2 linked regions of the Homo sapiens genome follow. The protein of the gene in region 1 interacts with the protein of each later gene in a pairwise test. Each region holds a gene or a part of one and is shown in the gene's direction. Other genes may lie near its edges. The genes, in order: HNMT and CAMK2D.

The links.
Region 2: the proteins of HNMT (region 1) and CAMK2D interact in a two-hybrid assay, tested with the Homo sapiens proteins (one large-scale study listed by BioGRID and IntAct).

The regions. Positions count from the first base shown.
Region 1 is NC_000002.12:137,970,878-137,974,707, forward strand, and holds part of HNMT (histamine N-methyltransferase), read left to right. Parts: intron 1-3,830. UniProt on the Homo sapiens protein: Inactivates histamine by N-methylation. Plays an important role in degrading histamine and in regulating the airway response to histamine.
Region 2 is NC_000004.12:113,513,472-113,517,301, reverse strand, and holds part of CAMK2D (calcium/calmodulin-dependent protein kinase type II subunit delta), read left to right. Parts: intron 1-2,110; coding exon 2,111-2,233; intron 2,234-3,388; coding exon 3,389-3,472; intron 3,473-3,830. UniProt on the Homo sapiens protein: Calcium/calmodulin-dependent protein kinase involved in the regulation of Ca(2+) homeostatis and excitation-contraction coupling (ECC) in heart by targeting ion channels, transporters and accessory proteins involved in Ca(2+) influx into the myocyte, Ca(2+) release from the sarcoplasmic reticulum (SR), SR Ca(2+) uptake and Na(+) and K(+) channel transport.

The DNA.
Region 1 (3,830 bases):
CCACTGCACTCCAGCCTGGGTGACAGAGCGAGACTACGTCTCAAAAAAAAAAAAAAAAAGAAAGAAAGAAAGAAAGAAAGAAAGAAAGAAAGAAAAAAGAAATGTGCACTGGAATATAAACTGATGCACAGCTTTTTTCATTGAGAAAGTCTCACCATGGGGAAAAATGTGCTCAGTGACAGAGTTAATTTACATTCTTGTGAACTCATTCTTTGAGTGGCATGGGCCTAATCTGTTCCCTTCCTCTTACTCAGTTCCAAAACTGAATGCTTAGAATTACCTCTAGCATTCAGATAACTCCTAAGCACCTTTTTTTTTTTGACGGATTCTCACTCTGTCGCCCAGGCTGAAATGTGCAGTGGTGCAATCTTGGCTCACTGCAACCTCCACCTCCCGGGTTCAAGCAATTCTCCTCCCTCAGCATCCTGAGTAGCTGGGATTACAGGCACCAACCACCGCACCTGGCTAATTTTTGTATTTTTAATAGAGACGGGGTTTCACCATCTTGTCCAGGCTGGTCTCAAACTCCTGACCTTGTGATCCACTCACCTTGGCCTCCCAAAGTGCTGGGATTACAGGCATGAGTCACATGCCCAGCCCTAAGCATACTTTTATAGGCATTTTATAGTGTCATTACTTTTAGATCCAGTGCTTTCATTCTAGGGGAAAATTTAAAGTCTGGAAAGGTAGATGGACACAGGTAACTCAGCCTCCAGTGAAATTTATGATCTTGGCTAAAACATCAGTAAAATGGGAACAATGAATTTTATCTCATAAGGTTGTAGTGAGAGTGATATAGGTAACATTTACAAAGTGCTTAGGACATTCTTATTGCTCCTGGAGAGTGAAGGCTATTCCCTTCTGCAAAAGTAAAATAAGTTTCATCTCAAGACTTTTCCTAATATCAACTCCTGAACAGTGTTTGCCTTATTTTTAAGTCATCTGGAAGTTTGGGTTAATGCATTAATATATAAAATATGTAGATATATTATTTATATATTTATCTTTAGTTATTTTCTTTTGTCTGAGTGATAGTTCAGTAATGGTTACAACTCGATATCAAGTGGACACTATTGTCACTTGTAACTTAATGCCAAGTGGTAATCCCTTGAACCTCTTAAGTATAAGTGTTCTAGTGCCCCATGAATGAGTTGAACTGTGGCTCATATTAACACAAAGATAACTAAGAGCTCTCTAATGAAATGAGATCACTGATTTTTTGTTTTTGTTTTTTGTTTGTTTTTTGAGATGGAGTCTCGCTCTGTTGCCCAGGCTAGAGTACAGTGGCATGATCTTGGCTCACTGCAACCTCTGCCTCCTGGGTTCAAGCAATTCTCCCTGCCTCAGTCTCCCGAGTAGCTGGGATTACAGGAAACTGCCACCACACCCGTCTAATTTTTGTATTTTTTAGTAGAGAAGGGTTTCACCATGTTGGCCAGGCTAGTCTCGAACTCCTTACCTCAGGTGATTTGTCTGCCTCGGCCTCCCAAAGTGCTGAGATTACAGGCATGAGCCACCATGCCCGACAGAGATCACTAATTGTTAATGTCATTATTTGTTAATTTTTCATGAAATACACTGTGATATAGTGTAATAAGAACTAATCATTAAAATCATTTTACTTTATTATCATCTTTCACCAAGAAAATAGAAACCAACAAAGACAGACAATGAAGGGAATTGTCATGAACAATACCATAGAGGGTATTTAAGCTAAAATACTTTATTATTGGTTATACTTTAAGTCCCCAAAATTATAATAGTTATGAATTGTCTAAAGAATGTCTTATTAATTCATTTAACCAAGACAGTTATTTCCTGTGTGTTTTGGATATGAGTTTCAGGCAACCAACAGGCAATGAGACTATCATTTGATAGTGTCACTTGTGCTTGGACAAGAAGAGAAGGCCTACAAGAAAAAGTAATTAAAAACAATCTCTATCATGGCCAAGTTAATTGACCTTTTAATATAAAGTTAATTGAATTTCTAATGCAAATTTATCCAGATGCTTATAAGCTATCTAGAGAAAGGAACGTTTGGCCTGCACAGTGAGTCCTTACATAAAGGTGCACATGGAAGCTAATACAGAGAACTTAACAAAATAAAGGGAACAACTCTTGGAGTTCTTCTGACTGAGCCCTAATAATGTATTAATAACAAACTCCACCTTGGGGAGAATGTGGGTGCCCTTTAAGGTCACTTTTCATAAGAAATCAATCAGAAATGTAAGAAAAACTCCAAGAAAAATTTAAGTTATATATACTTAGCTTTCACTACCCAACTAAGTTATATGAAATCAAAAGCAATGCATTTAAAATCCCTAGGTCTAGGTGTCTGTTGCTTGAAAGAACAGTGTTTTGAGGGGAAAGGACACTCTACTTCAGTTAGTTTGAGTGCTCATGTAGCAACTGGGAGATGGTTATCTAATCACCTATTATGGCCTGACTACAAGCATCAGGCAGAACAATGCATTACTATACAGCAAGGAACTTTCTATCCTTGCCTTAGAGAAATGGTCTCCCCACATATTCTAAGATCTACAGGGTGCCTGAGAGTTTTGTATTGTCCCATGGCTTGAGTATCCTTCCAAATCATTCATTAAACTCCAGTCCCTAGCAAATGAGGTCATTGATCCTGTTCACTCCTTTGTGCTCAGCTCCTGTAATGTATCTCATAGGGTCCCATTTCTGTCTTAGTTTACAGGTTTTATTACCTCAAGTTTCTTTCCTTGTTTGCACAGATAGATAGGCACATGGCTTTGGTGCAAATATTCTCTAAGCATTCATAATGGTGCTACCACTTCTCCCACCGTGCTTCAAAAACACACAAAAGAAAACCAGCTAAAAGCCTTCCTAGATGAAACTGCTACTTTTATACCACTTAATTCTCATGGTTTTTTTTGGGGGGGGGTGGTCTATTTGATTTTTTTCAGAAACATGAGCAGGGAGGGGATGCACATATGCCCTATCGATTAGCCTCTCCTCTTGAGTCTGGTGTTTGTGTGGAAAGAGTTTTCATAGTTTAAGAGAGATTGTGAGGTTTTTGCAAAGGTGCTTGGCACTTCAGTTTAGATGCGAAGCAATTATTAGGGCTCTGAGAAGTTCAAAAGAAAGGTAGATGACTCTGAGTCATCTACCATATCAATAAATTATAACTGGTAAATAACACTGTTATCCATAGATTACACATTCTAATGTTAGGAAAATGTATGAAATAAATATTATATGAACCCAATAGGAAGAAAGAGAGGAAAACAAACCATGAACAGAAAAACAGACCATGTAGCTTTTACAGAGACCAAACTTGGAAGTGTAAAGTTATGCATGTATGTTCATGTATATGAGTTTGTGTGCTTTAATGAGACAAAATGAGTGGCCAGAATTGCTTTATTCAGGGTCTTGAAGTATTCATGTTGTTAATTTCTGCAATTGTTTTTAGGTTTTGAGAGTAATGCATATATTCTAAATCTCATAGAACATGCTTCTGGGTCCATCAACATTGGTGCTTCCTTAAATTAAACCTCTTGATGGGGGTTTTCATTATTATTCAACCTCTAATGAGTGTTGTCTTCATGCTAGATGGTACGTGGGAAAAAAGAAACCCATATTCTTTTTGGTAAGAGAGAATGCTATTAATTTACAGTGCATATATTTATACCTGAAAACATGTTCCAGAAAGCAGTCACGGCCAATGTGTTCTCCTTGCTCTGGGCTCTGCTTAAAGGATAATCATTTTATCTGTCCCAGTGTTTGGTTCTTATGTTCAAATGCCAGAAAGTTTTTTAAGAGTTAGACAGAGCTGTAACTCAAATAATCACATTTAATCCAGC
Region 2 (3,830 bases), on another chromosome or scaffold:
TGCATTTTAAAAACATAAAAATTAAAATATTTCTGCTATAGAAATGATTATTGCCTGTTTAGTTGAATTATATTCTCAAATATCTATCACATAATTTTATATTATATACCAACAATATTTTGCTGTGATCACATATCAAATAGAACATTATCCCACTATACCAGTTTCTGGGTTTTGTTTTTTGTTTTTGTACTGTTTGGGATACTATGCAAGCTTTCATTTGAAGAATGAGTTTCACAATTGAAAAATTTGAAAATCATAATTCTAATAATATATTTAATTTATAATTAGAATATTTGAAAGTAGATATATATATATACATTCATAAATTAAGTTCAGAATCTGAAGAGGAAGGCTTTATCTACTTTCTCTTTATGGCTTAACTTTGTGTTTATGATATAATTTGCTCTCCTTTGATACATATTCTTGTAAATATGATTTACCACTTTCTCAGGTTTCCCCTCATACAGCCCTATGGAAATCCATGTGCAGGGTCTGGGCATGCTTTCCATGTGTTATTAAGTAGAGTAACTACAGAGTAGCAATATTGGGTTCACCTTTTGTGCACAAGTTGAAAGCTCAATGTGAAAGTGAGAGGAGAAGATATAAAATGTCTTTATTATATTCTATAATGTCTCGTGAACTCTTCAATGCATTTCTGATAAAAATTTTCTATTTAGATGGATGTGTGTGTCAGCAAGAATTAAAAATGTATATTCTTTGAATTTCAAAGCATTGCATTATTCCTAGACTAGTAATTGGAACAAATTATTATTTACATGGCAATAGCTAGCACATTCACCATCTTTACAGACTAGAACCAGCCCCTCTCTGGGCAGACGTAGCCCTGAAAATGCACTGCTTGGTATACCTAGAGGAATGCTTTCATGAAAATTAGAGAACTGAGGAAAATGTTCACCTTTCTTCATGCTGAACCTACCGCTCATTTGCTATCAGAAGACCTGTACAACATTAAGAAACAGCCTCGTGTGTTTCTTTAACAGCTCCTAATAGTTAGCAAGCTTTTACAACTGCCAAAGATAAGCTTCAGGAATTAAAAAATGGCAATTGTTTAGCTGGCAAAAATTACAGATATTAGAGTCAATATCATTTTTCTCATGCTTTATTATGCCAGTGAGTCACAAGTTCCCCATTTTAAAACTACTAAAAATGGACTAATTTAATTCCATGACACAGTGGCAATGGCTTTATTTTTCAAGATTGTCCATACAAATTCATGAATTGGGAAAATAACCTGATATTCTATCATTTTGCAACTAATGTGGTGTAAATTTCCCTTCATCGTTGAAGGACAGTATTTCTACTAAATATGCTAATCATATAAAAGTAAGTTAAGTAATTATCACTACAAAAAATAATGTAAAGAAAGGAGAAGTAGCTTTCTTATATAGTCTTAATATAAAAAAGTATTAGTAATGGGAAGTTATAAGATTTGATTACTTTCATATACTTTGGTGAAATTTGTAATTGGGCAGATTAAACTTCTTGAAGGGTTAAAATGAAATCTTGCTGAAGCTCCTGTAGTCTCAGATTCTTCTCACTACAGCACTCCAAGTAGCCCTGATTAATAGGTCAGTTTTGGCACAGGAATTGAAGCTGTTTTATTACCTCTGCTATTACTGCTTATGAGTTGTGAAAGTATATAATACCTCATTTTGAACCTTGGCATAATATCATGATGACATTGGTACATGTAGCAACCTGTTTGCTTTTATTAAGTTTTGCAAATAATTATGAGAAAGATTGTATAAAATTTCATTTTCAGATCAAAGCAGAGATACTTTGAGAAGAATAGAAGATTCTTAAGTTCTTTTTTTCTGAATTTTAAAATGTATTTACCATATGTGATATGCAGCTCAGTACATATGTTGGTCCCTTATCAGATACTCTTTAATATATATAGTTGTCTACATAGAGGGGGAGAATAGATCTAAATGGTTTTATTTATTTTAGATACAACTTAACTTATATAAAAAGTAAATTTATGAAGAAATTCACTACTTGAGGGAATGATTCATGTAGTTGACTCTTCCCTGTTTGATCGAGTGTGTCTATTTTTTAAACTTTTTATAAATTTATATTTTTGAAGTTTCCATCACCAGAATGGGACACGGTGACTCCTGAAGCCAAAGACCTCATCAATAAAATGCTTACTATCAACCCTGCCAAACGCATCACAGCCTCAGAGGCACTGAAGCACCCATGGATCTGTGTAAGTAAAACTTCTCCAAAACTTCAAGAACTAAAATGAAAAATAAGCTCTCCTTTAATATATTGTTTATGGATTTAAAATAGCTTTGCAAAAAAAGATGAAACTCAGAATGAATGAATTTTTGACTCGAGGTGTTTAAGAAAATTAATTTTATGATGGTGAAAAAATGCAATTTTCAGTAGCAAAGTCTGAATTGCATAGATTCTTAAATAAATATTGCTTGCAGTAACAAAAGGAATGAGTATTCTCCATATCAATTATTAACAATACTCATGAACAAGGTTAAGAAAATAACACCAAAATTAAATGTGTCCCAGAAGAAAAGATTTAACAAAGTTCAATTATTTATCATTAGGCAACTTTAGAAACAAGTATGAAGTTTGGCAGCTGACAGTAGAGTTTCAGTGGCGTAAAATAATGGTCATAGTAGTCTGAATATATTTTAGAAATATTAAGAAGAATAGTGTGAAATTTGAGGGGGATCTGGAGACTTCAGTAAATTTCCAAATGTGTCAAATGCTAAGGTGATAAATGTGGCACTAAGTAAATGAAAGGCAGCTCAATCAAAATGTGATTGAAGACATTAAAATAAAGATAATTTGAGAAATTATTAATATTCATTTCTATACTTTCTGGTTTGGTTTTGTTTTGTTTTGAGACAGAGTCTTGCTCTTGTCACCCAGGCTGGAGTGCAATGGCACGATCTTGGCTCACTGCAACCTCCACCTCCCAGGTTCAAGCAATTCTCCTGTCTCAGCCTCCCGAGTAGCTGGGATTACAGGTGCCCACCACCACGCCCGGCTAATTTTTGTATTTTTAGTAGAGATGCGGTTTCGCCATGTTGGCCAGGCTGGTCTCAAACTCCTGACCTCGTGATCCACCCGCCTTGGCCTTCCAAAGTGCTGGAATTACAGGCGTGACCCACCGCGCCCGGCCCATTTCTATACTTTCTATACGTCAGTGTTGCATCTTGGTCACAAGTAGTCTTGGCAAAACTAAAATTTTATTTTTAGGTAACTTTGGCAATTGAATACTTAGAAGTTGATCCTGCAGGTGCAGCACCATTAATAAATATTTGATGAAGTCAGGGACATTATTATACTTAGTGTGTTTTAAATATTCTCAATTAAGTTACTTTTTCTCCTCTTCTTCTAGCAACGTTCTACTGTTGCTTCCATGATGCACAGACAGGAGACTGTAGACTGCTTGAAGAAATTTAATGCTAGAAGAAAACTAAAGGTAAGAAATTTTACATTTTTATGGGGAGGTAGATTTGACAGACTAAGAAGTGAAATACTGTGTGAGGAAAATAACTTCTAGCAAAGGCTTTCAATTATGTAGACCTCAATACTCTCATTATTCTTTTTGGGGCTCTTGGGAAATGGAATATACACCAGAATCAAAACTATGGTGAAAAGCTGGAATCATCCTGGCAACACATGCTGTGGATCCTTCCTTCAGTGGAAAACAGCTGTGCAATTTGATAATCAGAATCTGGCCCGCACACTAGGGCCGTCCCAGCATCATGAGAGACAAAGGCCTTTGACTCTCAGGAAACCAAAAAACAAAAACAAACAATAAAAAATCCCCTAACTGA